4 linked regions of the Homo sapiens genome follow. The protein of the gene in region 2 interacts with the protein of the main gene of each other region in a pairwise test. Each region holds a gene or a part of one and is shown on either strand. Other genes may lie near its edges.

What was found.
Region 1: the proteins of BBS7 (region 2) and BBS12 interact in binary tests that used the Homo sapiens proteins (3 or more experiments, as listed by UniProt).
Region 3: the proteins of BBS7 (region 2) and IQCB1 interact in binary tests that used the Homo sapiens proteins (3 or more experiments, as listed by UniProt).
Region 4: the proteins of BBS7 (region 2) and ALDOB interact in binary tests that used the Homo sapiens proteins (3 or more experiments, as listed by UniProt).

What each region holds. Positions count from the first base shown.
Region 1 is NC_000004.12:122,727,524-122,736,088, reverse strand, and holds the start of BBS12 (chaperonin-containing T-complex member BBS12), read right to left. Parts: upstream 3,386-8,565; 5' UTR 3,205-3,385; intron 2,186-3,204; exon of another isoform or gene 1,998-2,185; intron 1-1,997. UniProt on the Homo sapiens protein: Component of the chaperonin-containing T-complex (TRiC), a molecular chaperone complex that assists the folding of proteins upon ATP hydrolysis.
Region 2 is NC_000004.12:121,852,588-121,860,475, forward strand, and holds part of BBS7 (BBSome complex member BBS7), read right to left. Parts: intron 6,592-7,888; coding exon 6,405-6,591; intron 2,975-6,404; coding exon 2,902-2,974; coding exon of another isoform or gene 2,857-2,901; intron 2,237-2,856; coding exon of another isoform or gene 2,234-2,236; coding exon 2,117-2,233; intron 500-2,116; coding exon 369-499; intron 1-368.
Region 3 is NC_000003.12:121,831,572-121,840,374, reverse strand, and holds the start of IQCB1 (IQ calmodulin-binding motif-containing protein 1), read left to right. Parts: upstream 1-5,314; 5' UTR 5,315-5,409; intron 5,410-5,895; 5' UTR 5,896-5,984; intron 5,985-8,803. Other genes in the region: EAF2 (ELL-associated factor 2), read right to left, coding at 3,581-3,719. UniProt on the Homo sapiens protein: Involved in ciliogenesis. The function in an early step in cilia formation depends on its association with CEP290/NPHP6.
Region 4 is NC_000009.12:101,425,248-101,433,135, forward strand, and holds part of ALDOB (fructose-bisphosphate aldolase B), read right to left. Parts: intron 5,651-7,888; 5' UTR 5,641-5,650; coding exon 5,529-5,640; intron 4,720-5,528; coding exon 4,508-4,719; intron 3,277-4,507; coding exon 3,222-3,276; intron 2,396-3,221; coding exon 2,235-2,395; intron 1,392-2,234; coding exon 1,308-1,391; intron 381-1,307; coding exon 206-380; intron 1-205. UniProt on the Homo sapiens protein: Catalyzes the aldol cleavage of fructose 1,6-biphosphate to form two triosephosphates dihydroxyacetone phosphate and D-glyceraldehyde 3-phosphate in glycolysis as well as the reverse stereospecific aldol addition reaction in gluconeogenesis.

The sequences.
Region 1 (8,565 bases), 870 kb from region 2:
GCCTCTTTTTGTAATGCTTTGCATGTTCCCTATCTTAATGTTTCTGTTCTAGTTGTTCCCTCTTTCTGGAATGCTCTTCCCTAAGAAATCTATTGCTGCATCACCTTCAAATATTTTCTCAAATTTTCTGCTTTTCAATGAGGCCTACCCTGAGCACTCTATAGAATACCACAAATCCTCTTTTCCCTCTGTACTCTGGATTTGTTCCATCTGTTATACTTTCTTTTTCCCATAACACTTATTCCCTTATAAAATAGGATATAGTTTACTTATTTATTTTTTATAGACTACATCTCTCTCTTAGAATGTAATTTCCAGGAAGGCAATTTTAGTCAATGATGTATATCCCGAGTACCTACAATATTGCCTGACACACAGCAAGTACTCTATAAATATTTGGTAAGTGAATGAATTTTTTTCACCATATTTGTTCCCCCAAATTTAAGTACAAAACTGAAGCAAGAGAAAACAGACGGTACTTTTAGTATTTCTCCAACATGAATATAAGTTTTAACCATCCTTGGAGTTGACTTGATTCCTATTTGGCACCGCCTTAGTTGAGGCCCTTTAATTGCTTCTAATGAGAGTTCCTCCTTCATATGGTGGTCAGAATTAGCACTGAAAAAGCACAAACCTAAACAGATTACTCCACTGCCAAAAAACATCTATTTATCTTAAAAAAGAAAGTCTTTACTCCTTGGCTTGATATATGTGCCTTATAATCTAACCTCAACCTAATTTATGACTCTTCTCCCACCTTTCCTTATAAACCTCATGATCTTGTCACGCTAGAACATATTTATTTTCACTAAGCTATACTGATTTGAATAGTCTATATTTTCTTCATCTCCATAGATGCTATAGATCTTTCATGACCCAACGCAAATGCCTCATTTCCTATCAGGACTTCTCTAATGCCCTGGGGTAGAGTTGTCCCTCCTTTCTGTGCTCCCAACGCACTTTCTATACCCATCTACCAAAGCAGATTAAAAATACCCTGTATTAAAAACATTGTATTATGTTTGTGTCTAGCTCCCCCACTAATCTGTAGATTCCTTAGTTATTCATCTTTTATATTCTATTTTTATTTCTTTCGAACTCACCCAGTAGTTGGCATAGTGCATGACATATAGAAAACATTAAATACATTTGGGAGATTTAAGAGTGCCTATGTGTTTAATGTTTTCCTGGATAATGATGATGATTAATGTTCTAAAGTGCAGTTAGATTCGTTAATAGCTAGTTTTCAAAACTAATTACATCCTATTCAAGATCTGGGAGTTGGAATCTGAGCCTACAATTAAAAAAACATTTTAACTAGCAGTAAATATTCCAAATATAAAAGCCTAAATCATAGTGATATAAAAATAGGTTAATATACTACTCCGCCATTTAATTGTCATTAGATCAAACATGATCCAAGAGATCCTCGAAATTAGGATTGGGTTGAGTATATACTTGGTCACTATTCATTTCTGGGTCTAAGAAATCCTTTTAATATTAGTATTAAAAATGAAGTATATGGCCGGGCGCAGTTGCTCACGCCTGTAATCCCAGCACTTTGAGAGGCCGAGGCGAGCGGATCATGAAGTCAGGAGATGGAGACCATCCTGGCTAATACGGTGAAACTCCGTCTCTACTAAAAATACAAAAAAATTAGCCGGGCGCGGTGGCGGGCGCCTGTACTCCCAGCTATTCGGGAGGCTGAGGCAGAAGAACGGCGAGAACCCGGGAGGTGGAGCTTGCAGTGAGCCGGGATTGAGCCACTGCACTCCAGCCTGGGCGACAGAGCAGGACTCGGTCTCAAAAAAAAAAAAGTGTATGACCTTGAAACTGATCAAGAGCAACTTTCCAAGTGAGATAAATGACGTGAAAAATCATATATTAAAGTGACCACATTTTACTTAACTCAAAAATTATCTTGGATTTGTGCCATTTTAATTTTCACTGGGTAACTTTATATGGAAAAATCACCTGCAATATGAGGATAAACTTACCTATTTTCCAGAAGCCTAATGAGATTTTTATCAATGATTACAATACTTGCGTGTCTGTCTGGGATATAATATGAACAAGACAGGCTGATGGCTTTGGAAAATGTGCCATGTTTCTACTCAATGAAGCATGAAAAGTGATTTGACAGAGTGCTTCAAGAATGCACTTTGCACTTGTTTTCCTCTCCTGCCTTCAGGAAGATAAGTGAGACAAAAAAAAAAAAAAAAAAAAAAAGACTAAAGTTAGTATTCTTCCTGAATCCATTTTTGAAGAATCCAGTATAATTTTTAGAAAATATTTCCTCTAGAGAAGACATTGTAGGAGGCATAAAAGGGGTCCGCATGTGTGAGCAATTAAAGGTTAGAAGTTTTAAGATTCTCTCATTCCTTCATTCCCACCAGGAAGTCAGTGGTCCATCCTACCTCAGTCTTTCTCCCCTGTCCTTTAAGCTGATTCCTGGCCAAATTCAGAACGGGCAGAAGCAGTAAATCTGGCCCTCTGGACAAGAGATTGAGTTGGTTTACAAAAGTTTCACAAGTATCTAAATCTAGGCCGTTACTGAATCAACTGGATAATCAGACTACCTGTGTCTGACTCTGAAGTGCAGATCAAGTTGATATCGTTGACAACTGGCCAAATCTTAGGACTGGGCCAAGGAAATGGCTGGATGTGTGTGTGTGTGTGTGTGTGTGTGTGTGTGTGTGTGTGTGTGTGTGTTGGGGTTGGAGGGCGGGGTCCGATAGTAATTATGGGTGGGGCCAAAGTCCTACCTCGTAAACAAATGCTACACGAAACATGTAAAAACGTTTATCTATGTATGTAGTGAAGCTTTAAATACATCCCAAGACCCATGCTTATCCCAATACCCACGTCCCTCCAACGACACTGTTACCCCATGCCACTGCTATACAGAATTCTGGTGTCTACCATGCCAGAATCCCTGCCCAAAACAGGGAGGAGGTAAATGGCTGAAGGCCCAGCTCCAGGCACTGTAGAAAATGAGGAAAGTCTAGCGGCAAAAAGAAAGGGCAGTCCCCTCTTCCTCTAGTACTCCTAGCCACATGCTGGACCAATTCACCCCAGGACCTCCAGGCCCTAGATTCTCATTCTTTCCCTGGCCCGAAGAGGACAGAAAAATCAAACACACGGGCTCCCACGTCTTCAGGAAAGACTTAGCTTAGCAGTCAGCGGAAGCACCTCACTACTAACCTCGCTCCTTTCTCCTCTCCTACAGGGGGCTGGAGTTCCCGGCTTCCCACCGGCCAGACGCGATTCTGGCTGGGACAGCAACACCAAAAACGCCAGGGCTAGGGAGCCCAGTTCCCCGTCCGCAGTTTGCGCATGTGCGAAGAGGGGCTTCTGGAGGAGCCGGGGGCTTAGTTGCTAAGAGACACAGCTGGAGAGAGAAGTTCCGCTTAACGCCGGGCTGCGAAAGGCGGGGACGTCACGCTATTGGTAGGGAGTAGAGAGAAAGGGCTGGTTTAAAGGCCTTTTTTTCTGTCCATTGGATGAACTGGATGTCAATAACTCAGGCTGGGTGGGCGGGGCTGAGAGAGGTCGGTGAGAGCGGCCTTAGCAACCGCCAGTGAGCTGTGAAGACTTGGGTTGGGCGGGGCTGCGGGAGGTGACGCCGGGAGGTCCCGGCTGAGAGCGCCGGCTGCCGGCTGGGGACCTGGTGAGTGTGAAGCTGTAACCTTCTGCTGGGGCCGGGGCCGAAGTTTTTCCGCCAGAGCAAGGAAGGCTGCCCCTGGCAGCAACTGCACTCCTTCCTTACTCCTGTTGAGATTCATTTTATAGTAGGAAATAGGTACTTTAATATAGTTTATCATCAATTATTCTGGTTCTGCTAACTATTCCAGTTATATAATTTATCTTTCACCCATATGTGTGTGTATTACAGGCATCTAACTACCATACAAGTTCAGACCAATGGAAGAAAAGAGCAGCAAAAATTGAACTGAATGAATCCCAAAAGCAAGAAATTAAAGACGCCTTTAATTTATTTGATATTGATGGGTCTGGAACCATCGATGTAAAAGAAGGTTCTGAAATTATTTCTAATTCTAAATCATTTTAAAAACCATATTATTTGTGGCAATCTTTAAGGCTTTCTTTAAAAGTAGTCTTCTGAAAGCTTAATATAAAGTCTCTTCAGTGCATATGCCTGCCCTGCATTAGCAAAACGATATCTTGTTAAGCATTTTAATTGTGTTTTATAAATGAGTAGGCAAAAGCCCAGGGTGTAACAGTGATGTACATGATGGCACAGTAGGACTGAAACACAGGCCTGCTGACCTAATTTTCTGTTTATGCTCAGTCCATAATAGAAAAGAGAGAAGCTCTTAATAGGGAGTTAAAAAGCTTAGAAAGAAATCATGGCATATTATAATTCCTTTTCTTCCTATTTCAGATTGCAGTGTGGGCCTTAGGATTTGAACCAAAGAAAGAAGAAATTTAAAAAATGGTAGCTGAAGTTGATAAAGAAGGAATTGGCACCATTAGTTTTGAAGATTTTTTTTTGCCATTATGAGTATAAAAATGATATAGTTATGATTTTATTTTTCAAAGAAATACTAGCAATAACCTGCTACATTTTAGGGCTGGAGCAATCAGAAGTTTTATAGAGAAGCAATTAGAACTAGGTTTTTAAGGATGGGAGATAGGAAGAGCAAGATTAAATATGTTTTCAGGGTAGTAATGAGAAGACTATGATGTGGAGAAGAGGTTTTTGTCAGGAAATAATGAGGCTATATTGCAGGATAGAGAGAATGGGGCCAGAATTTGGAAGCCTTTAATTCAGCAACATATATTGAATGCCTATTTTTGCCAGGCACTATTCTAAGGAGCATTGAAAGATACAACCTTCCATTTTGAAGCTTACATTTTTGGTAACGGATCTGAATTATGAGGTTTAATAAGAGATGCATTCTGGACCACCCTGTGCCTTCTCCACCTTAGCAAGCTCTACCTTTAAGCACCTTGAGGGCAGGTGTGAGTACATAATTGTTAAAAGACCAATAAATAAAATCAGAACACAGCTACTTGGCACATTGCTGCTTTAGACCCCAAAGATCTAATTAAGTCCAGCTTGATAAAATAAATAAATGAAAGACTGGATAGTTGCTTCTTTTTTAAAAGAGTAAAAAAGATGAAAAAGAAGAAATATTGAAGACTTTCAAATTATTTGATGATGATGATACTGGAAGTATAATACTAACCGGTATCAAGAGGTTTGCTAAGAAACCAGGGGAAAATTTAACATGATGAACTTCAGGTAGATTTTGCTTATTTTTATAATTATAATTTATATGTAATTATAACTTATGTGATAATTTAGGATTATAATTCTAACTTTAGTTGCACTTATGCATTTAAAATAAAATTTGGTTTTGAATATGTGTTTGACTTCATTTATGTCATTTTAAATGTATTTCATATATTTACATTTTGTTTTACAGGAAATGCTTGATGAAGCTGATCATGATAGAGATGGAGAAATAAACGAGGAAGATGTTTTGAGAGTGATGAAAAAGACTACTCGTTATTAATAGCGTTGTTTTAGTCCTTGTGGAAAATTAACAAATTTGTATTTGTTATGCAGTTTTATAATTTAATATCTGAATGTATTCATTTTCAGTTTTTAGTTTATATGTACACATTGGCTTCTTGATGTCTAATCCATGTAAGAAGTTACACATCTCTACCAATATGATGTTAAATCTACAGCATCAAGAAACAAAACATAATGACTTCTTTGAGCCATTAATCCAAGAACAGTATTGATTCTAGCTGCTCTTTTGAGAACCTTAGGTCACAAAGACTTAGAATTTTAAAGTTTGATGAAGTTGGCTTCACATCCAAATGAATTTGGCAAACAAAACTTATATTTTCCTTTTGTGCAACCCAAAAAAACCTGATGAACATTTGCTTTTTAGTCAGTTACTCAAATACATAAAGTATTAAATAGAACTGTCTGGAAACATTATTTGCTAATTTTCTTCTTTTAGTTATAAAGAAAATTCAAAATAGCACTTACATCACCCATATTTCCCTGTAAGTTTGACTCTATAGTGAGCACTTAATACCTCTGTGCTAGGACAGGTGGTGTAGAGTTTTATTTTTAAAAAATTTTATTTATATATTTTTTGAGACAAAATCTCCCTCTGTCACCCAGGCTGGAGTGCAGTGGTGCGATCTCGGCTCAATGCAACCTCTGCCTCCTGGGCTCAAGAGATTCTCCTGCCTCAGCCTCCCGAGTAGCTGGGACTACAGGTACCTGCCACCATGCCTAGCTAATTTTTTGCATTTTTAGTAGAGACGGAGTTTCACTGTGTTAGCCATGATGGTCTCAATCTCCTGACCTCATGATCTGCCTACCTCAGCCTCCCAAACTGCTGGGATTACAGGGGTGAGCCACCGTGCCTGGCCGAGATTTTATGTGTTAACCTCAGTAAACATATTACAAGTTGGAAGCTGATTGTATTAGCTCCATTTTACATACAAGAAAACTAAAGTTCAGAGAAGTTTTAAAAATTCCCCAGTTGCCCATTGATAAGAAATAAAACATGGATTCCAAATCTTAAGTTCTTATTCTTCATTATGCTGCTTCCCTATGGATAAAACTTTCAAGATAACTGTGTATTTTCTAACTCATTTTCAATTCTGTGACTCTTGTGATTTCTTCCTTGTGAAAGAGCCAAACTGTTGGGAAACGGAATCTCATACATACAGTCTTTTAACTCCTACTCAGTTGTTTGAGAGTGGGCCTTGGGCCTGGAACACTTCTTTTGAAGAGACTAGGAGTCCACAGAGCCTGTGCTGAACTTACCACCCCGTATAGTAATATCTTCCTCTGTTTCAGAGTCAATGTGTAGTCCTTTGCCCTGCTTAAGTGTGTGCATCATATGGCATCTGACCAACCCCACTGCTCTGTCTCCTGTGGGGGAGGGGATGGGGGTCCTTCAGCACAAGAGGAGTGTTTGCAGGCCACCTGCCCTGTGTCAGCTGCCAAGAGGGACCCTCTGGTCATGGGAGACTGAAGTCCACTAGGGAAGCTGATCTTGCTCTGTCTCTTCTGTATGTGAGTAATGTGTGTTCCACCCAGTGTTTCACTGCATTGTTTTCCTTGGCGACTTTGAAACAAGATGCAGTGGACAGAAGTGCTCAGACTTCTGCTCCTGACAAATAGGCAACAGATGCCACTTGCTCCACACAAACACTTTCTGATAACCAAGTTGTCTTTGGAGCAAGAAAGACTCATAGAAAATTAACTATAGTGACACTACCTGGTTCATTTTTAGCACAACTGAAATGAAAACTGAAGGTTTTAATTTTGTCTTGTCAACACAAGAGGTTTTATTTGATTGAAACTAGAATTGTATGTGCTCATGAGCATTCTCAAGTGTTTTCACAGTGTCTTTGATTTCTAATTATGTAACATTTCTTCTAGACCAGGGAAAAACTTGCCTATTAAATGTGCTTCATATGTGAAAATGTTAGCCTTCAAATGGTTAAAAGTATACATGAACAAGTTCCAAAAGTTCTGAATAAAAGTCTCCTTCCTATCCAAGCCCCAGTTCTTCCTAAAGACAAAGATTTTTGCCACTTTTTAATGAATCATTACAGAGAATGCATATTCATATACATATGTATACAGAATAGTTTTTTCACAAATGATAGCATATTATACACATTGTGTATATATTTGAGAAATAGTTACATAACTTGAGAAATAGTTGCATAACAATACAAATAAAATATCTGTATAATATTCCATTCTAATGGAATGGAATGGCCATATAATTCATTATATCAATTATTATATTTGACAGTCTTCTAATGGGAGACATTTTAGTTTCCAACGTTTTGCTTAAATTAATATCCTTATACATATGTTTAATTTGGGAATACCTGTACAATTAATTGTCACAAATGAAGTGATTGGGTTAAAATCAATATGCATTTTAATTTAAATATTTTTATTTTTGATAGATATTGCCTTCTAAAAAGATTTTTGCCAAATTACATTTCCAAAAATACTATATGAAAATGCCCAAAGTATTATCAAACTTTTTTGATTTCTGTCAGTCTGGCAAGTTGCAAATCATACATTTTTCATGCTCATTTCTCTTATGAGAGGCATTGAGTGTTTTTTCACATGTTTAGACTCTATTTGTCTATTCCTTTTTGTGTATTGTCTAACAAAGTCCTTTGCCTATTTTTCCATTGGATTTTAAAATTTATTGGTTTGTGGCTGGGCACAGTGGCTCACACCTATAATCGCAGCACTTTGGGAGGCCGAGGGAGGCAGATCAGAGTTCGAGACCAGCCTGGCCAACATGGTGAAACCCCGTCTCTACTAAAAATACAAAAAAATAGCTGGACGTGGTGGCAGGCGCCTGTAATCCCAGCTACTCGGGAAGCTGAAGCAGGAGAATTTTTGAACCCCGGAGGCGGAGGTGGCAGTGAGCAGAGATCGCATCATTGCACTCCAGCCTGGGCAACAGAGTGAGTGAGACTCCATCTCAAAAAAAAAAAAAAAAAAAAAAATTGGCCAGGGGCGGTGGCTCA
Region 2 (7,888 bases):
GAAGTTTATTCCTAAAATCTTATTATTTTAAAACAACAGACTTACTTATATTAACCAAACATATAAATATTACTCCCATAAAGTGTCATTATATGTTATAAACTAAGGCAAAATATTTAATACTTTAGAGACTTATAATAATATTTTAAAGTATAATGAAAAAGTAATTTGTTATCCTGCTTAAAGGCAAGAGTCTATTATTCAAACACAAGAGAAGTCTAGAGAAGATTCTGATAACATCAAAATAGCAATATTTTAAACCAAACACAAGATTTTAATATATTTTCACTTAATAAAATTCAAACCATCTGTCATCTCTATAATAATTTGACAAATAATAAGCATATAGTCTTTTTTAATGAACTTACCTGATCAAATCGTAGAACAGGTTCATTTGCATTATCAAAACTATACACTTCCACCATTCCGTCATCTCTCCCAACAAGTAAATCTTTAACCCCATCACCCACAATGTCAAAGCTGTCAATACACAAAATACCTTTAAAAAGAGATATGTGATAAGTTATTAAGAAGACTAATAGTTATGGTCAAGTATATGCCAAGTAAGAATGAAAAAAACACACATACCGACTCAGAATGGTGAGCAAAAAAACTTTGACCAAAATCAAGTGCTCTTCTCTTGTCCATCCACATTCATCTATTTCCAGGTCTTTAAATATAATCTGTGTGAGAACGGCCCCTACATTTATATCTCCCTCCAGCTCTGGCCAAAGCTCCAGACTTATATATTCAATTTGGTATCTTCTCACAGACATCTGCATCTAAAACTTTCCATACCCCAAACAAAACTCTTTATTCCCCTCTTTACCATACCCCCTCAATACTGCTCCTCCCTCTGTCTTCCCCCATCTCCATAAATTATTCTACCTAGCTGCTCAGACAAAAATTCTGGGCCACATCTGATTTCTTTCTTTTTCTCACCACCCCTCATATCAAAACTGCTAGCAAATTCCATCTTCTCTACCTCCACAATATATACTGAAATTGTCTATGTTTCCAGCTACTGATAGCCTAGACTAAGCTAGCCTAGACTAGAATAAATTATAATAACTCTTCTAACTGGTCTCCATGCTTCCAGTTTTGACCTGTTGCCCCCCGCCCCCTCCAATCCATTCTCCAGTGTCCTTTGTTTTGTTTAGGCTTAGTAAATTAAGTGTCACACTCCCACTGACAATTTTCTAATGACTTCCTACAGCACCTAGATTAAAATTCAAACTGTTTTCCAAGGCTTACACAATTTGGCTCTACTCTACCTCTCTGACTCCATCTCCTGCCATGTTAACGCATTTAGCCAAACTGACTGACCTTCCTACTGTTCCTCAAATGAATCAAATCTACCTCCACCTCAAATCTTTCACACTTACTTTTTCCTCTTCCTGAAACATTTTTTTCCCCAAATCTTCATATTGCTAACTCTTTTTCTTATCAATCAGATCTCAGTTCAAATTTCACCTCTTCTAAGAGGCTATCTTTGACTACGTGGTCTAAAAGTGACCCTCCTCCTTCTACCATCACTCTCTAATACACAGCCCTGTTTTATTTTCTTCAGGTGACTAGGTAAAGCTGTCTTATGTATTTATTTGTTTTTACTCTGTCTCTCCTAATAAGTATTTGTTGAAGGAATAAATGAATATATGAACATCCTGAACATATACATAGGCATCTCACTATCTACCTAATCAGTTATAAATTCTCCTTAGAAAGGTATAAATTCCTTAGAAAACAGGAATATTCTCTGACCCACTGCACTTCTTCTTTGCCTCATAACAAAGACTCCCAGATTCCAATTAATTCTGTACCTCAAACAACTAAATTACCTCAGACAATTAAAATCCAATTAAAATTGGATTTTAGCATAAAATGATATTAGCCTATAAAAACGTATCAATACCAAATTACTATCAGCATTTCTTACTTTTAAAAAATTATGCCAATAGTATAATAGACCTGACAAATAAACAAATAGTAGATAAATCAAGGTGTGAATTGCTAAGTCTGCTATGTAGTATAAATAGATAAAATAGAATAAATTATATAATTTAAGATACTTAATAATCATTGACACCTCAGAATCTGAACTACATGAAAAGCATACCTCCTCTCTTTTTCTCATTTTGAATTTCCCACTTGCGTACTGGTTTGGATGTAGTAATCTGTATAAGCGCAAGTTTTCCGTCTGATGTCCCAAACAAAAGGTCTTCTCCAGAGTCACCTACTTATAATTAAAGTCAACATATTATATTTATCCTACAATTAGTAATCTCTTTAAAATTAAAATGTTGTTATGTAAAAATATCATTTTAAAAAGTACTATAAAAAGATATAAAACTTAATTGTTGAGAATGGTTATATATTCACACAATTTTATAGCTATAAGAGATAAGACATTTCCCCATTATATAATTTTAAGATGAAGAAACTAGGTTGGGTGCCGTGGCTCATGCCTGTAATCCCAGCACTTTGGGAGACTGAGGTGAGAGGATCCCTTGAGCCCAGGAGTTCCAGACTAACCTGGGCAACATGGCGAAACCCTGTCTCTATAAAAAATACCAAAAACCTAGCCGGGCATGGTGGTGTGCGCCTGTAGTACTAGGGAGGCTGAGGTGGGAGGATCCCTTGAGCCTGGGAGGTCGAGGCCGTGGTGAGCTGAGATTGTACCACTGCACGCCAGCCTGGGAGACAGAGTGAGACCCTGCCCCCCAGCCCCCCAAAAAAGAAAAAAACGGAGAATTAAAAGTTCAATAACTCGTGCTGTTAGTTACTGGCAAGTTACCAGAAAGACAACTGTCTCAATTCTAGTTTATGTCCTTTCTACAATTTCCCATTTTCACTTACTATTAAAACACATAGTTGATTTGTGAAAAATAAAATCCTGATTACCGCCATTTCCATTGTGTAGTGCTAAGACAGTAGGGGGTCCAGGAACTTCAACTGCATACATCACATCAGATCCCTGAAGGAGAAGTATTTAAAAACTGAAACAGAATACAAACTGAAAATAATAGAGGCATTCATGAATAACATCAATATTCAAATACAGTACTCTTAGTAACACCTAGAATAAAATTGCTTTAAAAATTAGGTTACGAATACAACTTGCATTTGTTAGCAATTTTGCATATATCAACTGATTTGAAAACAACATATATACACATATATACGTATAAATGTATACATATATACGTATATATACAGATATGTACACACATGTATACATATATACACATATGTATACATATATGCACATGTATGTGTATATATGTATATGTACATATATGTACATACATGTATGTGTATATATGTATATATGTGTACATGTACATGTGTATATGTATATGTACATATATATGTGTGTATATATATATATATAAAATGTAAAGACCAAGAAGAAAACATTTAAAATATTCTCTACCTTTAATACATTTTAAATACATTGTTTGCCTGAAAACTTGACACTGGCAGATTTTCCTATCAAGTCTCTAGGAACAAATTATTCCCTCTGCCCTCTCTAGGTTAACTGGAAGTCTTTAACTTGGAATACATCCAAATATTTTAACAGACACAAAGTTACTTCCTAAGGAAAATTTTGGCCTTGCCTTTGGGTATTCCCAAAATCTGCTCCAGTCAGAGGCTGAATGACCTGCTACTTAGATAAAAAAACAAGTTAGGTCCTTATATATTTATCAGTTTTTCAATTTTGCTACTTGTAATGCTTGTCATTTTGGGCACAGTATTTGTGATGCTGTTAAAGAATGAGTTAGAAGTACTTATACTCACATGGAAAAAATATCCATGATCTATAATTCAATGAATACAAAATTTGCAAAATGGGGTGTGGTGGCTTATGCCTGTAATCCCAGCACTTCCGGAGGCCAAGACGGGTGGATCATCAGGTCAGGAGTTCAAGACCAGCCTGACCAACATGGTGAAACCGTCTCTACTAAAAATACAAAATTAGCCAGGTGTGGTGGTGCATGCCTGTAATCCCAGCTACTCAGGAGGCTAAAGGAGGAGAATTGCTTGAACCCGGGAAGCAGAGGTCGCAGTGAGCCAAGATTGCACCACTACTCCAGCCTGGGCGACAGAGCAAGACTCCATCTCAAAAAAAAAAGAAAACACAATTTGCAAAATTATAGTTAATATGGTATGACATTTTTGTTTTAATGTTTTTTTTTTTTTGAGATGGAATCTTGCTTTGTTGCCCAGGCTGAAATGCAATGCTGTGACCTCAGCTCGCTGCAACCTCCACCTTCCGGGTTTAAGTGATTCTCCTGTCTCAGCTGCCCGAGTAGCTGGATTACAGGTGCAGGCCACCATGCCTGGCTAAGTTTTGTATTTTTAGTAGAGACAAAGTTTCACCATGTTGGCCAGACTGGTCTTGAACTCCTGACCTCAGGTGATCCATCTGCCTCAGCCTCCCACAGTGCTGGGATTACAGGCGTGAGCCACCACATCAGGACTAAAAAAAGTTTAATGTTTATTTAGAAAACGTAAGAAAGCCATATGCTTTATCTTTTTTTTTTTTTTTGAGCCAGGATCTGACTCTGTCATCCAGGCTGGAGTGCAGTGCAGTGGTGTGATCATAGCTTACCGCAGCCTCGACCTTCTGGGCTCAAATGATGTTCCCACCTCAGCTTCCTGAGTAGCTGGGACTACTGGCATGCACCACCATGCCCAGCTAAATTTTTTTTAAGAGATGGGGGTCTCGCTATGTTGCCCAGGCTGGTCTTGAATTCCTGGAGTCAAGTGATCCTCCAACCTCGGCCTCCCAAAGTGCTGGGGTAATAGGCCTGAGCCGCTGTGCCCAGCCTGTTTTATCTTTTATTTAAAATATCATATTAAAATTTACAGATATCTACACGTAACTATATAAACACAAAAGAATATACACAAAACTGTTAAAAAGAGGCAACCTCTGGAGTAATGGATTATTCACAGAGATAGACGGGGAGTGAGAAAAAAGCATGCGGTGCAGAGGGAAAGACTTCAACTTTATTTTCTACAGATCTTTAGTAATTATTTTAAAAATAATAAGCATATGGATCTCTTGTCAAAGCAGAATCCTAGAATTCAGTCAATTTCTAATTGAATGCTAAACAGCTCCTGTTAAAAGCCTTGTTCAAAACAATTCATATTTAAAAGCATAGGCTATGGGGGAAATTAATCATTCATAACTCTAAAATGAACCTTTTTTCTTTTCTTTTTTTTTTTTTTTTGAGATGGAGTCTCCCTCTGTTGCCCAGGCTGGAGTGCAGTGATGCAATTTCAGCTCACCGCAACCTCCGCCTCCTGGGTTCGAGTGATTCTTGTGCTTCAGCCTCCTGAGTAACTGGGATTACAGGTGTGTGCTACTGCACCCAGCTAATTTTGTATTTTTAGTAGAGACAGGGTTTCACCATGTTGGCCAGGCTGGTCTCAAACTCCTGGCCTCAAATGATCTTCCCGTCTCAGCCTCCAAAAGTGCTGGAATTACAGGTGTGAGCCACCATGCCTGGCCTAAAATGAACCTTTAACATTACTTTGTCCCTGGGGGGTAAAAACCTCATAGACTCACTGGATTTTTCCTTTTACAAAAGGGCTGATGCCAAGAAATGGCCATCTGACTATGGAATTCCAAAGAGTGAGATAGCCTGTGGTGGCATGGACTTCACAGCTCAACTTTTTCATCAACTGCACCAACTATATCAGCCTGTTTCTGATACAGTTCATCTAACTGTTACATGCTATTTACCTTTAAACATTATTTTAAGCATCCTATAGAGTGTGTGTGTGTGTGTGTGTGCATATATTTTATTGAAAGTCACTCTCAAGAAGATATAGTGGTAACTATTATTACTCATAACAATGACCTGAAGCAGTTGTTTTAGCCAATCGTGGTTTTTACCAGAAATATAAGGACATCAAAATGAATTTTCCCTCTATCACTCATTTACTTATCCAACATATATTTACTGAGTGCTTATTCCATATACTTCCATAAACACTGGATAAACTCAAGTTATATAACATCCTCCCTCCAACCCAATTTCTTCCTTTAATTTGATTTTTGGGGAAGATAAAGGTGATGGAAGAAGAAAACAAAACAAAAAGGCAGGTAAAGGTTCTCTGTAGTCAAAGTACTCCATTCTGATAATAGCTCAGAAATTGTGTATGGTGAGGCAAAAAAAATCCTTTTTCTTCCAAATATGCTTCTCTTAAAAACTTACAAAACAACACATTTGACTCAAGTTAAAAAAATTAATATGTCAAATTATTTAAAAATTGTTTCCACATGTTTATAAAAGCCCTTAAAACAGTAACCACTAATTTATCTCAAGTACATAATGTTCATTGATATTCTTTCACATAATATAAAAAATTAGAAAAATACAAATAACAGCAACCTGTAAAACTCTGAGCACTCTGTCCTGGCAGGCCAATACAGGTGTGATACGAGATAATCTTTCCACTGGAAGGCAGATCACATCATTGATTTTATCCCCAGAAAGGTAATAATGTTGGTCTTTGCAGTCACAATAATGGTTATAGATGTAACTTGCACTGAGAAAGAGGTCTGAGCCAGATATGTGCCTGAGAACATTAAAATAGTAATTTTTAAAAATAAGCACAGGTACTGAATTTTTTTCAGAGATAAAAACAGAAAAATGTATACAGTTTACTAACATTTTATTATAGACTTAGAGAACACAGTTTTTAAAACTTTCTCCTAGTTAATTCCTAGTATTTTTGGTATAACACTGTTTTTGATTTTGAAAGCTGAAAATGAGGATGTTAAGGCCTCGGGCTTCTCAATAAAAACTGAGCTCAGAAAAATGGAAAACAAAGACAAGATAATGATAATTTAACTGTCTATATCCAAAGACAATTAATACATCAAAAAATGACTTCTTTGTGTACTATGTGCCAAGCACTATCTTAAGTGATTTTTATGTATTAGATCAATTAATCATCATAACTCTATAAAATAAGGACCATTATTATTCCTTTTACAGGTGAATAATAAAATGTAAAATAACTTGCCTAATGGCACCTAAGTATTAAGTAGTAGATTAGACTGCAACTCAGTTTTTTGCTCGAGTTAGCTTTCTTACTACCACACTAAATTGCCTGAAAAAGTCTATTTTAAGTGATTCTACCTCAAACTAAATGATAAACAGCAGAAAAAAAAAGATTTCATTAGAACTTTATCTTGAAAAAAGAAATGAAAACAAGTTTATTTCATATTACATTTAACAAAATTTAGTCAATAGTCATAACTATATTCTAATTCTTAGACTGAACTGAGTTTTCACTTGGGTGAGCTAAAATGTCTTGACAAAAATTATATTTAAGTGTGATATATTTTTCACTTCTAGGTTGTTATTACCATATTTATCATAAAGAGGGTAATTTTATTTGAATGTTTCATGTATTCCTCTACCTCCAAGTTCTATTAAAAAATTTTATATTAAAATTATTCTCTGAAGAGCTTATCCTATAATAATCCTCCCTGATTTTCTATTCTTCAGTTATTAAGTGGCCTCACTTTGTGGCTCTGCATATGATTGAATAGTCCTCTTACTATTTTTATCAATTTCATGAAATTCTCTATGTTTTTCAAAATTTTAAATTCCATTTTGAAACCAATCTGTATTATATTTGCATTATATTGGCCAAAGTACTATTTAGCAATCTCTATTGTTGACATGAGTGGGGATACATGGCAACATTAAGCAGGAAAGGATATGTGGTGACTAATGTTAAGTGGTCAGTTTCCTTACTGAATATCTTCAAGTTATAACTTTTGTTTTCCTATAAAACCTTACAAATGTGGGGATTCAGACAATCAATTTTCAAAAATTGAGTAAAGAACTTTTCTATCCCATCT
Region 3 (8,803 bases), on a different chromosome or scaffold from region 2:
GGATTACAGGCACGCGCCACCACAGGCCGCTAATTTTTGTATTTTTAGTAGAAACGGGCTTTCTCCATGTTGTTCAGGCTCGTCTGGAACTCCTGACCTCGTGATCCACCCGCCTCAGCCTCCGAAAGTGCTGGGATTACAGGCGTGAGCCACCGCGCCTGGCTTTTTTTTTTTTTTTTTTTTTTCCTGAGAGAATCTCACTCTGTCGCCCAGGCTGGAGGCAGCGGCGCGATCTCGGCTCACCGCAACCTCCGCCTCTTCGGTTCAAGCAATTCTCTGTCTCAGCCTTCCAAGAAGCTGGATTACGGGCTCCCGCCACCACGACCGCTAATTTTTGTATTTTCAGTAGAGACAAGGTTTCACCATCTTGAACAGGCTGGTCTTGAATTGCTGACTTTCGTGATCCATCCTCCTCAGCCTCCCAAAGTGCTGGGATTACAGGCGTGAGGCACGGTGCCCGACCTATTATTTACCTTTTCGTGGACATGTCCTATTAGATTGTAATTTTTTAAAGCATAGTACTCATACTTTAATTTCTCCACATAGTGGCTCTAGCACAGTGCTTTTAATGTAATGGATACAGAAGAGATCTTGTAGTTCATTCAGGTTCATATTGTTCACTCTTCTCTGAATCACTTCTAAACTTATTTTAAGTATATATAAAGTGTCAAATTATGTGTAAAATACTTGTTTTCTAATTATTTTCTGTGGCTCAGATTCATCTCTACTTCAAAACTCTCAATCTCTTTAGGTTAGACTGCCATTTTCCTTTCATACTTTTCACCGGTATACTTCTGTTCTCATAGACAGCATCCATTATTAATATTTGACAATAAAGAATTTTTTATGATAAATATTTAAAACCTTAGAAATGACATCCCAGAATAAAACTATGGCCCTCTGACTTCTAATATTTTTCTCACAGTAACACAAAGGGAAATACTGGAAGGTATGGTTGTCATTTAACTACAGCTAAATGATGCTTTAGAGAGGCCAGCAGGGTAACCCAGGCAGTCAAGCTGACCAGTGGGAATCATAGTCACACGGAGGATGAATAAACCCAATCTCATAACTCTGCTCCACCCAACTGCTGCCAAGAGAAGATATGGGATCAATGTTGCCAGCTTATCATCTGATTTTTAAAGATAAGCTGAAAATCTAGATTTTTTATATAAAAGGTCCTGAATGTTAGGTATTTGCAACTAACTCAAGATAAAACAACAATGGTGTGGACCAAACAAAGCACTTCTAAAGTCAAGCTCAGCCTATATGCTATTAATCTATAACCTCTGTTTTAGTGTTTATGAAGTGATTTTTTTCTTTACAATATACTATCAATTTTAATCTTCACAAAAAAAATTTTGGGTTGAACATTTTGCCCACCTTTTACTAATGGAGAACTCCTCTAAAGTAATGAAGTCAATAAATGATGAAGTCAGGAACTCAAGCCACATAATTTATCTCCTCATATTATATAGCCTGTTTGTCTTACATCCACAGATCTTAACTTGTATGTATGTGTATGGGGAGCAGTATTAGGAGATGAGAGACAATCATAAATCCATCCCTATGAAAACCTGATGAAAATTATAGACCAATCATTGATCCTCTCCACAGAAAAATACATATATGAACATACATATCAAATACTGTACAATCCCAAGGGGTTCACAGGTCCCTGAAGACTACATAGATGCCTATAGTATATGAGATTATCTGCAAGAGACAAATGTATGCAAAATATCTTTAGCTTTACTTAATGATAAACATGAATTCATAATCAATAAATCTGCCAAAACTATTCTGAATCTATTTACATTTCTAATTATTCTACTGTTAGGATTAATAAACTCTACTCTTTATTACCCATTATATCAAGCAGTGTTGTCTTTTGTCCTCACACACTTTTTTAAAAGTATATAACTTCCGAGTTTCAAGTGGTTGAGTTCCAGAATTAAAGAATTTGCTGATTAATCTCATATTCATACTTTCTGTATGCTTCTAAATGTCAAACATATTCTCTTCCAAGTTGCTATGATTCCAGACTAAATAGTTCATTTCTCAGTTCTCCTTGGTTTGGAAACCCTACCACCAACTTTACCATTTATTTATTCTCTCTGGATTTCTTTCATCTATGCAATTTTTTCAGGTTTACAATGGAATTACTTATTATATTGCATGAAGAGTAGAAAACCATTTTCTACTTTGTATTTAATACCTTTTCTGCCAATGTTTATCGCTTTTCTGATTATTTTAACTGTAACATCACATAATGCCAATATTTTCATAAGAATCCACAATTATTATCATCAGTTTATTTTCCGGGATTTGAATGAATTCAACCAACTCCAAAACCCACACTGCTCATTAGCTCATCATTTAAGGACACAAAAAAGTGGTGTCATTTACAAACTTAGGATTTCACAATTCATTGCCTTATCTGGATATAAATAGTAAAACTAGTACTACTCCCAATTCAAAATTGATTCTAGTAGGTCCTGTTATTGAAACTCTTCTACCCGGTAAAGCACCTGTTGCTAAGCATTCAGCTTATCGTTGATAGAACATCCCATGCCCTTCCTACCACATGCCAGACTATCTTTTTGATAGTTTTTATTGCTAAACTCTGATAAATGCTGTTTCAAAGTCTGACTAAATTACATTCATTAGCACCCCTCGTACACATATGAATATAACTCTTCAACATTAATGGTGACTACTATTTATTCTCTACCCTGTGGCAAATATTGTTCCAGGTTGTTTATGCTATCTTATTTAATCCTTACACAAACCATGAAATGTAAATATTACTATTATCTTTTAGCCATAAGAAAACTGAGGTTGAGAGCTTAGAGAATGTTCCCAAAGTCACATTATATATATAGGTGGTGGAGACCAGGATTCACATCCGGGTTTGCCTGAAGTCTTATATCAGACAGGCAGAATTGCTCCTGTAAATAAAGGCAGAATATTACTTTCTCTCCAATGACATTGGCTTGAGGGTTGGTTATAAATTAGGTCCCCCTTATCTGCATGAACATCAGCTTCATACTATTCTACAATTTTCAAACCTCACTCTGAGTTCTTAAGAGTGAGGATTACATTGGAAATGAACCTGTCCTCAAGAATAATAAACAGTTTTATTTAAATAAATCTAAAATGATTCTGTGCCATTACCACACCTGCTTCAACAACAACAATAAAAGAAAATAAGGACTGAAAACTTTTCTAATAGTTCTGTCTTCCACAGGACTAAGTGTGTATTCAAACATGTATGTTTGTTTATTTATTATTGTCATTATTGTTGTTTTGCTTATTTTTGTTTATTTTCATTCTGGTAGCTGGATCATCTGATCCTCTGACTTTCAAGATACTGGCATTTTCAGAACCTTTATAAATGAAAGGCTGTGAAGGACCTGCAAGATTATTTTCAAAGGCAATTTTTTATTCATTTAAATTGGGATTTGTGCCCTACATAAGAGAATATATACCCAAATCATATAGAAATATATTCTTAAGCAAATTTTTATAATCTTAAGCCCTTGTAACTTGAAAAATTAATATTAAGACTATTGCATACCTGAGAAGGAAGAGAAAAGGAGAGAGTAGATACTATTTGAGAAAAAGGCATGGAAAAACCAGATAAAGACGCATATCACACTTCCGGAAAATGGGACTGAAGAGAGAGAAACTGCAGAGCCAGCACAGCACCATCTCATCGTGGGGAGCTCTGGATGAGAAAGTATATGATAAAGAAGAATAAACAAGGGACACTGTTGAAGAGTTTCTGTTCACAAATATCTCACCCATTTATTCTACCAATTGGATGTTAATTTTGCTTTAAAAAAACCCTTTTAGTAAATATATTCTTGCAGGGTTAAAACCAGTGGTTCTTCATACCTTTACTTTGAGTAACTATAACTAAATTGTCTACAACTTAAATAAACTTTTGGGAGAATGTATGCTTTAATTAGTTGTTTTGATTGAACCATGGAACATTTCAGAGTAAAAACCATAAAGGTCTCTAAACAACCCGAGAACAGAATGACTGAGAAAGGCGGAATGATGAGATATTAAGGAAGGGCAAGGCTGGGGAAAGGAAGTGAAAAAATACTTACAGTTTTACCACAGAAAAATGAGAAGTTATAATTCAGTGATCTTGAAGTTTCCTTCCCGCTCTACAATTCTATGACAGTTGTTATGCAAAAAACGAATGTCTTACACATAAAAACTTATATGCTATATTTTCCTTCCTGGAATCTATATCATCCAACTGCTAAAGCAAAAGAGCTCCTTTTTCTACTCCAACAACATAAAAGAGAATAATTTATTAAAACTAGTTCCAGAGGACATAAAGAAAACCAAAGGGTAGAAATCATAGGGAGGTAAGCATCTTCCAAATAAAGAAATTAATAACACACCCTCGAATACTTTGATAATCAGTATTTGATAACTGAGTGAAATCTGGGGTCCAAAGAGATATACAGATCATTGGGATGGTTGAGAATTTCTCCCTTTGCAAAGAACACACCAAATAAGAACCCTCATCTGCCAGAGGTGAGAAAAAGTGATGAAAAGAGAGAATATTGCCCCACCAGCCTCAAGGCATTCAAGTTCCCCGGCATTCGGTCCTTAGTCCCTTCCCATTTGTCACCTTATTATTTTCCTGTCCACCCCTGCATCATCCACCTGTCACGTCTGTCTCCACAGTCACCTCTACAGACTTTTTTCACACTTTCCCTTCCTGTCTGCTGGTCTCAACGCTCTCTGTCCAGGGTTTACCCACATTTGCTCTACTCCGATTCCTTCCACCGACCCCCTAAGACTCCGAGCAGGTTAGAGGATCGCGCTGCCTCCCCCCTCCCCGCCCCGTAGTCTCCAACAGTGTAAGGGGTACTGTGGGAACAAAACCCAGAGGGGTTTGTGCCTCTTCACCCCCATCCCGGGAGGCTCCCCCTCTATCCCCGGATGGTCCTCACTCACAGCGCACAGTGTGGAAGGCGCAGCGCGGCTGCTTCTCGAAACTCTCCCCTAACTTGAGAACCCGCTCGCGACGGTCTAGGTGTGAGAATCCCGCTGCGCTATTCATAATTACTCTCCTGCTTTGACTTTAACTCCGCCACCAGCGCTCACTATCTGCCACCTCAGCCTGAAGCAGCTGCACTTGATCCCGCCAGCCAAGTCACCCAGACTCCACCCCGCGCTCGACGCGCACCGCCCCACCGGAGCGTCTCACGTTCTGATTGGCTTATTAGCAAAGGGCGCTCCGCCCCTTGACTCCGAGGCTCCTAGTCCCGCCTCCAGGCCCCTTCCCGCGTCGCGACGCACGCTGCCCCGGAAGGCCGCGGCGCTGTAGTGCGGCGTGGGAGCCCCAGGTTCTTTAGTGGAAGAACGCGAAGCGAGGATGAGGTAACTTATCTGAGGTGGTGGCTGGGGAGGGAGAGGGCCCCAGGGCGCCTACCAGGAGGCCAGGACCCCAGGCTCCTGGACGAAGTCAGCCGGCTTGTAAGAGCTCTTAACGGGAGAATCGGCCTGCCCTCACGCCCACTCTGTAGAGATCTGGTGTGGAAACTGAGGCCTGGGGAGGTGCAGTGTCCAGGCACAGGGCCTAGTGTCTTATCCAAGGCCTGGTAGCGCGAAAGCCGGGTCTAGAATCTGGAGTAAAGGAGCCCAGAGGCCCCAGAATCTCGGTCCTTAGACTTGAAGCGACGCTGTTACCTCAGTAATCGTTTTCTGACCTTTTTGTACCAGAGGAAGTTTCTTGTGGTCCTAGGACTGGAGAAGGGGATGTGTAGTGGGGAGGAGAAAGAGGATTCGGAGATAGCAACTGCAGACATTTAGGATCAGCCGCAACAGGATCGCACTGAATTTCCTTTTCATTTATTTTCCTCACAGTGATCCGTGGAGGCAGTAACAGGCGCGGCGAGGGAGAAGTGATTCCCGAAGAATCAAGGCTGGGCCGGACCCGGTGGCCTGGCAACAGGGTAGTAGCCTTAAAATAGATAAATAATTGTCTTTTTGTGTCAAATTTCATGAATTTAATGTAAAGATGGGAGAAGTGTTGAATTATAGGAGAAACACTCGAGAAAGTTTACAGATGGTTTCCATAACAGGTGGTTTTTCAGGGTAATTACGCAATCCAACTGCACTCCCTCACCTTCTGCCTTAGGCACATTTGTCAATTGATTTTGGGGTAGGTGGTTATGTCTCCTTCAACCTGTCTGTGTAAATCCTACCCTTTGAAGGTGTGCCGAAGCTGTTTCATATCGTAGTTAAATGCTTTAAGGCAGATGGTGGCTCTAGTTTGAACCCCTGCTTTATACTTAACAGTGTGACTTTGTGCCAGCTAATTACATTCTCCAGAGTTTAAGTATGCTCATTGTTCAAATTGGGAAAAAAATAATAGTATCTGTTCCTTAGAGTTGTTGGAATGATTAAATGAGTTAATACATGAAAGCAATTAGAACAATTCCTGGAGCATGATAAGAGGTCTCCAAATGGTTATTTAAGGCCCAGCTCTACACTTATACTACATTTTAAGACCATCTTGGTGGCTGCCTTCTCTTCTAAATAGAATCATTCTAGGAGGTAGGAATTGCTATTTTGTTTACAGCAAGAAAAATGGTTCAGAGAAGCCCAGTCCTCTGACTTTATGGCCTGTATTCTTATCTGTGTCATCTATTTAGCATTTAACATATATCTGATATTCTTAAGTATATTTTTTTGTATCTGTGTGTGTGTACACATGTACATAAACATACTTTTCTTTCCCAACCAGAACAATAGCAGAGAGTATGTCTTGTGTAGAATCTTTGCATCCCCTGCATCTACCATACTGCTCTGCACATATTTGTTGATGACAATAATGATTTAGTGATGTTTTATTACGGTAGCCAGGAGGGCACAAACTGTTTTGAGCCTATTTTACGTTAGAGAGGCTTCCAACTATAAATCTGAGCTTTCTCTATTGTAACAAGAGAAAAACAGAAAGTCAAGAAATTGAGGCTCAGAATGCCTGAGGTTTGTGCATTTACTCATACTTTCAACCTGTATTTAGCAAATCCTAGTACGTGCCAGGTACTAGTCTAGCCACTGGGAATACAGTTGTGAACCAAAGATATAAGAAGGCAGCCAGCAAAGATGGTCTTAAAATGTAGTATGATGGTAGAACTGGGCTTTAATAATAACCATTTGGAGAGCTCTTACTATGTGCCAGGAATTGTTCCAATTGCTTTCATGTATTAACTCATTTAATCATCTCTAAGGGATAGGTAGGTTGCCCTCATGAAGCTTACCTTCTGAGGTGAATTTTCTCCAAACATATATTAAAATGAACTATGTTGTACTAGCTCAAGAATAGACAAACAGATTAAATTACTAGAAACTAAGTAGAGTCCAAAAAGATACCCTGTGTATGTGTATGTATACATAGTGCATGAAAATGTGACGTTTCAGATTGTTTCTGTTATGTCTATTCATAACTAGTTACCTTATGAATTTATGACTACTGTGTGCATTTTTTAATCCATCAATAACTTTAACATTAAAAATTAGATTCTTATATGACACCATTCACAAAAATACCTTACTTTAGAAGATATGTAAGGAAAACAAAACCAAAAAAACATGAAGATTTGGAGAATGTTTTTTATCTCTTGGGTTAGAGAGGACCTTTCTAAACAGGACACAAAAGACAGATGCCATAGAGGAAAAGATTGTTATATTTCATATGTAAAAATTGTAAAAATGGCTGGGCGCTGTGGCTCATGCCTGTAATCCCAGCACTTTGGGAGGCCGAAGTGGGCAGACCACTTGAGGTCATGAGTTCAAGACCAGCCTGGCCAACATGGTGAAACCCCATCTCTACTAAAAATACAAAAATTAGCTGGGCACGTTGGCACACGCCTGTAATCCCAGCTACTTGGGAGGCTGAGGCATGAAATCACTTGAACCCAGGAGGTGGAGGATGCAGTGAGCTGAGATTGCACCACTGCACTGCAGCCAGGGTAAACAGAGTCAGACTCTCTCTCAAAAAAAAAAAAAAAAATTGTAAAATTATGGTAAAGACCCCATAGTCAAATTTAAAAAAATAAATGACAAGGAGAAAATTTTACAGCCAATATAAAAGAGAAAAGATTCCTATCCATGTATGAAAAGCTTCTGCAAAAGAATAAGACAAACCGATAGAAATATAGTCAAGGGATATGAATAGAAAATACATAAAAGAAATAATGGCCAGTGAACACGAAATGTGCCTGACATCCCTAATAATCAAAGAAATACAAATTAAAACACAATCATACCAATTTTCATCTAACAGATTGGCAAAAATGTAAAGGATCATGTGTATATTCATTGCAGTGTTGCTTGTAATAGCATACAGCTTGAGTGACCTCCAGTAGAGGTGATGTTTAAATATATTTTGCTGCATTCTTAAAAGGAAATGTAGCATAATGCAGCCATTTGGAGAGAATGAGATAACTATATGCACTCTCTTTGAAAGTTTTGTGACTACTATGTGCCGGGAGTTGCACTGGGCTTTCTTTAAGGTATTTTCAGCAAACCTGTCTTTTAATGATTTATATTGTACCTAATAAGAGATATATGAATGGAAAAACAGTTTTTGCTCTCACATCATGACAATCAACACAAAAGACTTCTGTGACCAAATGTGTGGAGTTTTCTTCCACCAACAAGCAAGCAATCAATTCTGCAGCGGACACCAGCTGGGTATCATCTAATTCAATTCTGACACTGTCTACTTGGAGATAGGGTCAGATCCCTTAGGTTTAGGGCTTAGTCC
Region 4 (7,888 bases), on a different chromosome or scaffold from region 2:
ATGTTGAAGAAATACATGGATTGTGGGCATTTGGGCAGACTTGGGATGCTTGGTATTCTGAAGTGGGAGAAGAAGTGCTGGCTGCCTGTGAGATAACAGAGGTTTGTTTCATGAATAGAAGCAGATTTCTGGACAAACAGAAAGCTTGTGGCTCTCCAAAGAATGAGGGCTAAGACCTTGAGTTAGAGAAGAAAGAAGGCCTTACCAGGAACAGCTGCAGGAACAGTACGGTGGAGAGCTGTTACGGTGGCCATAGCTACTTGTTCTGGAGTATACTTCTTGGTGCAGGCATGTCCAGCAGTCACCATGTTGGGCTTTAGCAGGGTGCCCTCCAGGTAAACATGATGGTCATTCAGGGCCTTGTAGACAGCAGCCAGGACCTGAAGGACAAGAGGTCCCACCAGGTGAAACTCAAAGCTAGTCATAGAGCCACTTGACCTTGGCACATTTACACTGCAGGGAGGCAGGATGAAGGAATTCTTATTTGTTGCTTGGCAAAAGCTTCTGAACCAATCTCCAGGCCTCATTAGACCAATGTGTTGCAATCCATAGCCACTGAGCACAACTAAACTGGCCTGTCTTCATCACCCCTAATCTAGCTTCTCATTCACTGCATGAATGACAGGCATGGCTCTGCTTCCTAGAAGCCCTTCATTCCTTTATTTCCATTACTCCCTTGGTCAATGTCATTCCTTATTGAGACTGCATTGCTTTAGCTATTTGGGGTCATCTAAACGGGCCTCCACTGTCCATGTTTACAGAAGCTGAGTAGTCATAGAATCATACATTTTAGAGGTGGAAGTGCTCTTAGATTGCATTTCAGTCCACATAATTTTCCAAGTAGAGAAACTAAGGTCAGGTGACATTATGACTCTCCTACTTTCTCACAGTGTATGAATAGAACCACCCTCTTTCAGATCCACTGTGGCTAATTTAGAAAGTCAGATGGAATAAAGTACTTTCTAATTACATCTTCTCATTTGAGCCACATGTCTTATTTTAAAATTTCTTTGTGTACATGTAATTGAATTGAAGTCAAAAGAGATAATATGACTTGCCCAAGATCCCACAAGTGGAAAAGCGGATTCTCCAACCCAAGTCTTGGTACTGCAACTCCTGTGCTTTTTCTATATGGAGTATACCATGTGCCAAAAAGGTGAAGGGCTGATGAGCACCTCCCTACCTTCTCTATGCTATCCATCCTAAAGGCTACTTCAGATATAACAGCTGTTATATGTTAAGTAACAGCTGTTACCTAAAACTAAGATTTTTCAACTAGAATTGGGGCCTTCATATTTAAAACTTACCTTCTCAGTAACATACTGGCAGTGTTCCAGGTCATGGTCTCCATCAGGAATTACCTCTGGTTCAACAATAGGTACCAGTCCATTCTAAAAAGGAAAATCAAGGAAGCAAAAGTGAAGCTGTGCTCACTGTTATCCTTTCCTTAGGAGGAGATTCAACAGTTGCAATTGGTATAAATTGAAGCCATTATGGAGAAATACTACATAGATGACTTAAAGACAGTAGAATTTTTCAGAATGAGATAAAAAATAAATACAAACCCGTAATTACTGTATTTCTTTCTAGAGATTATTCTAGCTGCCTCAGAACCTAGCTACTGCCTTTTTAGGGCATCTAAGCATAAATCATTAAGAAAGATGTCTCTAAGTTGGGTTAATGAAGAAATTCAAGCAGTGTTTAGAGTTCTAATTGGGGATCTCCAGCTGTCCACAACTCTAGTAACCCCAACATAGTACTCACAGAAGAAAATCAAACTTAACTCGGACCCAGAGACATTTTAGTATGTGTTGGAAACTTTAGCATCTGGTCACCATCCTCCAAAGAATTATTTGGATTGGAACTCGGTCAGAGCTGTCACTCTTCAGCTAGGAATCTAAGAGGATCATGTCTTGGATGTTACGGAGTATAGACAACCAAGTTCCCTGCCCTCAAAAGCCCGATCACTTATAAGACAGCTTATGGAGCTTTGACAGAGGGCAGCAGTTGATGGCATTATCCTTTGAACTCATAGCTTAGTTGGACTCCTACTGGCTTGTGGGACCAAATCTTTCCCTACCACAGTTGGCTATAGCAAAAGTTGTGAAAAATGCCACTAGGATATACTGGTGAGGGAAAAGGAGGTCCATTTGTAGTTATAGTATAATTGAAAAGAAAAGCTCTGAAGAAAACTCTAGCCTACTCTTTTTCAGCCCAAGGGGAAGGCAGAGCACCTGCTGACAGATGCTGGCGTAGCGAGCCAGGGCGTTGGCGTTTTCCTGGATAGCGAGGCTGGATGGACACTGGTCGGCAATCCTCAGCACAGCACGCCACTTCCCAAAGTCAACACCATCTTTCTTGTACTGAGCACAGCGCTCTGAGAGGCCATCAAGCCCTGCAAGTCACAAAAGAGAGAAAGGCTTCTTTGTACCTTTGTACCTGATCCATGGGGCTTCTAATAAAGGGAAGGAGTTCTCCCTTTGCTTAGCTTTCAATCCACTGTGCTTGAGGATTGAAAACAGCCAAGCATATCAGCATTAATCACAACACTGAACCAGAAGACTTAGATTTAATAAATAGTGTTTTGACATACATACTATCTACTCCATATATAGAATAGAAGAAACCAATAGTTAATATGATACTCATTTTACAAAGGTGGAAACTGAAGCTCCTAATGGTTAAGCAACTTTACCAAGTTTGAATTGCTCAAGAGTGACAGAGCTGGGATTCAAATTCTGCTTAGCTAACCCAATGTTGTGAGTTAATGCTTGTCTACTTGGGCAGAAGTACCTTGCAAAATTATCTAGGTAGCATGTGATAGAACCAGGATTCAAACCCAGGTGTGTCTGACCTCAAAGTGTGGGGACTTTCCACTCTACTGCTGCTAATTTTTTTCTAAAAATAATACTTCCGGGTGCAGAGTTTAATCTTCTTTGTCCAAGGTACTGTGGTAAGCACCTTATGTACATTGTCTAAGTTAATCCCCACAACATTTTGAGAAATCCCCATTTTGAGATAGGAGAACTGAGGCTCACAATATTTCAGTGACTGGCCCAAGGTCACAGTTGTTAAATGGAGGAGCTGGTATTGAAAACCAGGTACGTGTGGCTCTAAGACCAGTGTAATAGTTGTGTTTTGTTTTTCCTTGCTTCCTTCTTTACTTGCCTTCATTTCTAGCTTACACTGGCATGATTCATCTCAGTGGGCAATATCCTTACCTTGAATGGTGGTTTCTTTGTTTGTTCCTGCAAGAGGAGCACCTCCTTGGTCTAACTGTGGATACAAATAATTAACAGGTGTCAGATGTCAGGAAAACACAAGCAGAACTCTTGAACTAACTAACAGTTTGCATCTTTTACAGATCAAGGAGTTGAATTAGTAAAGTGTATTAGTGCGAGGGACCCAGTTCAGTCCATAGCAGAAGGGAAGTTACCTAGAAGGTACACTGTGAGAGTGTCTACCCTAACATTTATTGAGCACCTGCATGCACCAGGTGTTGTGTTAGTACAGGAGGTAAAGAGAATTAAGGATACAACCTCTACTCTCTACATAGCAAAGGCAAAAGTCATGAGCTTGAGAATTAGCCTAAACTGGCTCTGACCTTGCCTTGTTGTGTGGGCAAGTTATGTTACTCTTCGTAGTTCAGTTTTCTCACTTCATCTCTAAATAAGGGTAATAATTGAGTCTACTACCAGAGGTTATGAGAATTAAATGAATGCTTGGAATGGTAAAAACTCTTATTCAATGGATACTAGTTTTCACTTTTGAGAAGTTTATGCACTATTGGAAGACCTAGTTATAAGATAGAATAGTAAATGCTTCAATAATTATGATAGTTACCATTAACAATAATTACGCAATATAAACTTTTTCTTTTCTTTTTTCTTTCTTTTTTTTTTTTTTTAGACAGGATCTTACTCTTTTTTTTTTTGAGACAGGGTCATCCAGGCTGGAGTGCAGTGGTATGACCATAGCTCACTCCAGCTTCGACCTCCAGGGCTCAGGTGATCAATCTTTCCACGTCAGCCTCCTGAGTAGCTGGGACTACAGGCATGCACCAACACATCTGGCTAATGTTTTTGATTTTTAGTAGAGACAAGGTCCCACTGTGTTGCTCAGTCTGGTCTCAAACTCCTGAGCTCAAGCGATCCTCTTGCCTCTGCCTTCCAAAGTGCTGGGATTACAGCAGTAAGCAACCACGTCCAGCCTAGAAACTTTTAGTCATTTCATCCCTGTAAGAACATCATGAGGTAGATTCCCATTTTAAGAAATGAGATTGAGATGCAAAGAGATTAAGAACGTGTAGAAAATTTGAGTGAAAGAAGAGGGCACTGGAGGAAAACTCTAGAAGAGGATCTTGTTCTCTGTGGGAAGATGACGATGGAAAAGGGTGAGAAGAGAAATTTGATGAGGAGAATGTTCAGAGTGTTGGCCCTGTCCTTGCCAGTGTGCTTGGAGTTTGCCTAGGACAAAGCAGAAGTGAGGTGTGAATGGAGGTGTTCACCTTGATTCCCACCACGATCCCCTTTTCCTTGAGGATGTTTCTGAACAGCTTTCCCTGGCTGTCCTTCTGGTAGAGGGTCTCGTGGAAAAGGATCACACCCCCGATGCTCTGGTTGATGGAACTGTCCACAGAGAAGAGGATTTCTCGGAACTGCCGGCGGTTCTCTTCAGTGTTTTCCACCTTGATCCTCTGCAGGCGGTTCCCCATGGTACCTATGGTGGGAGGGCCAAGGGCAGCATAAGGAGCAAGCCAGGGCTTTCCTGTCACCCTTCTCCACATCATCTCAGAGACCCTCACCACAGTGGAAAGCAAGACTTTCTTTTTTCAGATAGTCAAAGCTCCTGCTTCAATTTTTTGTGTTCCAGGGAGAAGACCCTGGTTGCTCTCAGGTGGCTAGTTAGGGAGTATGTGGGCTGGGCATATAGAGGTCAGGGTGGAAGCCACCCTCAGGTCCAGGTGGATATGGAAGGCCCTCAGGCCTCTCTAGCCTCCCTGATCTGGTCCTCAGTCTTGCTGGATGTACATGCAGAAGGAGGGATGGGGCATGCTCTTGATTCTCAGGGTTCTGTGATTTTATGGCAGGCTGTGCAACTCTGCCACAGCTCTCCCTTGTGCCATCCTGAGGTTCTCCCATCCATAAGCCCTGTCCTATTCCAGATGCAGATACTTTCCTGCCCTTCTTGACTCAACTGAATTTAAACTGACTTTAAACTGACTTCTCACTAGTAGCAGATGCCTGTGTATCTGACCTTATGCTAGTTACTAAGTTTCTGGCCTTACTACAAGGCTGGATTCAAATGACCCCTGGCTTAAAATGAAGGGCTTGAGCCTCTTTCCTTGGCTTTCAGGAATGTGCCTACTACTTACAGGACTCAAAAGCTCTACGCTTACTGAGTCTTCTGCTCCCACTCCCGTGTACATAAACCTTTACTTCCATAAAGAATATGATTATCAAGTTGTTTTTGCTAAGTGTAGAAAAAATAATATGTTGTTATATGATGAGACTGCTTTTTACACTCACCTACAGATTCATCTGCAGCCAGGATCCCCTTTCCATTGGCAACAATGCTCTGGGCAATTTCTGAGAGCTCCTTCTTCTGCTCCTGGGTGAGGGCTGGAAATCGGTGGGCCATGGTGACAGGTCTGGAAAAGAGTGTGCGAGAGTTGTGCACAGAACCATGGGTGGCTCAGATGGATGCATGACCAAGACAGTTGGGGGTGCAGACATGCTGTGCAGACCTCTGTGACACCTCTGACCCATTTCCACAGGTGGATAAGCAAATGAGGTTTGTTTTTCCCCCATCACTTATTAGTTGCAATTAGCTGCAATGAATGAAGGTGGGTTACTGAATGTTCATGGTGATCCTAGACAGAATGCTTTCCAGCAGGCCTTTGGAATCACTAATCAAAACACTGAACCAGCTAATTAGTGACCCACTAAAATATGACTAATAGAGGGGACTGCAGTAATGGACTGTCTCTCTATTCTGTGGACTCCTGGTGCCACTGGATTTCCTTAATGGCTTGAGGCCAGGACAATGTCGCTCTTGACCTCTGCAGTTATCCTCTGCTTTGCTCTGTTAGTCTGTAGTTCCAACAGATTATTCTCCAGGAAACAAACTTGAAAGGAGAAATCTATACATAGTCTTAAAGCTAACTTCCATTTGGCCTCGGGCTACAGAGGGTTGGGTGCAAGTTTCCTTTTCCTTATATTCAACCCTCTATGAAACCACTTGGGGCAGACCAGAGAGGATGTTTCCTAAGTGCCTCTGGGCTTGGGTTTCTCACTGCCTATGAGGATGCTAAAGTTGTATGGCAGTCCCTGCTCCAGCTTCACTGCTTTAGCAAGGGGAGACTCTGGCTTGAAGACCCCCTAACCAAGCAGCCTCCACAGTGGTTGTGCTCTGAAGGAGATCGTTGCCCCTGTTCGGATGCCACTTTGGGTTAATCTTGAAAATGCAAGCTCAAAGAGCCCTCACTTTGGGTGTTACAAAGAGTGCTTTTTGCATAGGTTGGGCTACCAAAGAAAAAATGGTAATGAAGATTATCTTGGGTAGCTTCCTATCCAATGCCAGGGTCTCCTCCTTTCTCTAATCTTCTCTCCCTCCAATACACTCAGCACAGGGTGGATGCTCCATGTCTACATATTACTTCCCGGAAGCCCAGGGACACCTCAGGTCTCATCTGATCCATTGGCAATGAGGTAATTATAGCAGGTATTATCTTCATTAATTAATGAGCAAGCTAAGACGTAGAGAAGCTAACTGACTTGTTCAAGGTCCCAGCTAGGATGAAGCAGAGTCCCTATCCAGTCCTGTCCTCATGACAAATATATTTCTCCACATTTTCTGCATCCCTTCAGGGTAGGCTGTCAGTACTCTGTCCCTTGATATAAAAAGTCAGTAGCCACTGAGCTAATTCATGAGAAGGTATAACTGATGATCTCATTGTTGCCTCTCCATTTCAACAGAGGTTCTTGTCTTACCCCAAAAGAATGAAACTGCAATGCTGTTACTGGGGTAATAGGACAAGCTAGTGGGCAACAATTTCTAGAGAAGATGACCTTCTAAGGCCCATTATGTCCCAGCCACCAGCAGAGCATGTTTGCCCTGTTTATATATTAGCTGTAATATTGGAGTCAAAGACTTTTAGCTTTGGACCTGGCCTCCAGATCATCATGCTGAAAAAAGCCAACCTGGGTGTGATCTTCAGAGCAAGGTGCAAACTTTCTCTCTCAGTTTAGGCATTTGTACAAAGGAGTTGACAATTACCAAGAAAGAAAGATATTTTCTTAATGAAACAAAAGGGAAAATCAGCCCAATAATAATAATAACAACAAGTGATCATGTATTGTCAAGCACTCTGCTAATGGCTTTACATGCACTATATAATTTTTCTTGAAAATAATCCCAGAAGGTGGTTGGGCTCTTTTCCCCTCCCATTTAATAGATTAGGAAAGAATATAAGAGAGTGTAAATTATTTATCCAAGGACAAATAGCTAATAAGGCATCAAGTTGAGATAAGGGGCAGTACTCCTTTCCATTCAAGGGAAAGAGTGAGCTTGATGAAAAAAATGGCCTTTGGATGACTCCTAATGTCCTTGATGACACCCCAGAGTACCTTACGCTGTGGGTGATTACACCATGGACATTACTTATTCATAAACATCTGACACATTTATGTAGAGGTTTGCTGCTAGCAGATCAGACAGACCTAGTTTTAAGAACCAGCTCTGCCTAATCTAGCTGGAACCTCAGGCAAGTCAGGCAGCTTCCTGAGTCTCAGTTTACTATGGATTAAATGGTGATAATAACTGTTCTGGTTGTCTCTTTGCCAGGTAACTCAAATGCCATCTATGAGCACCCTGCTCATTGTAGTTG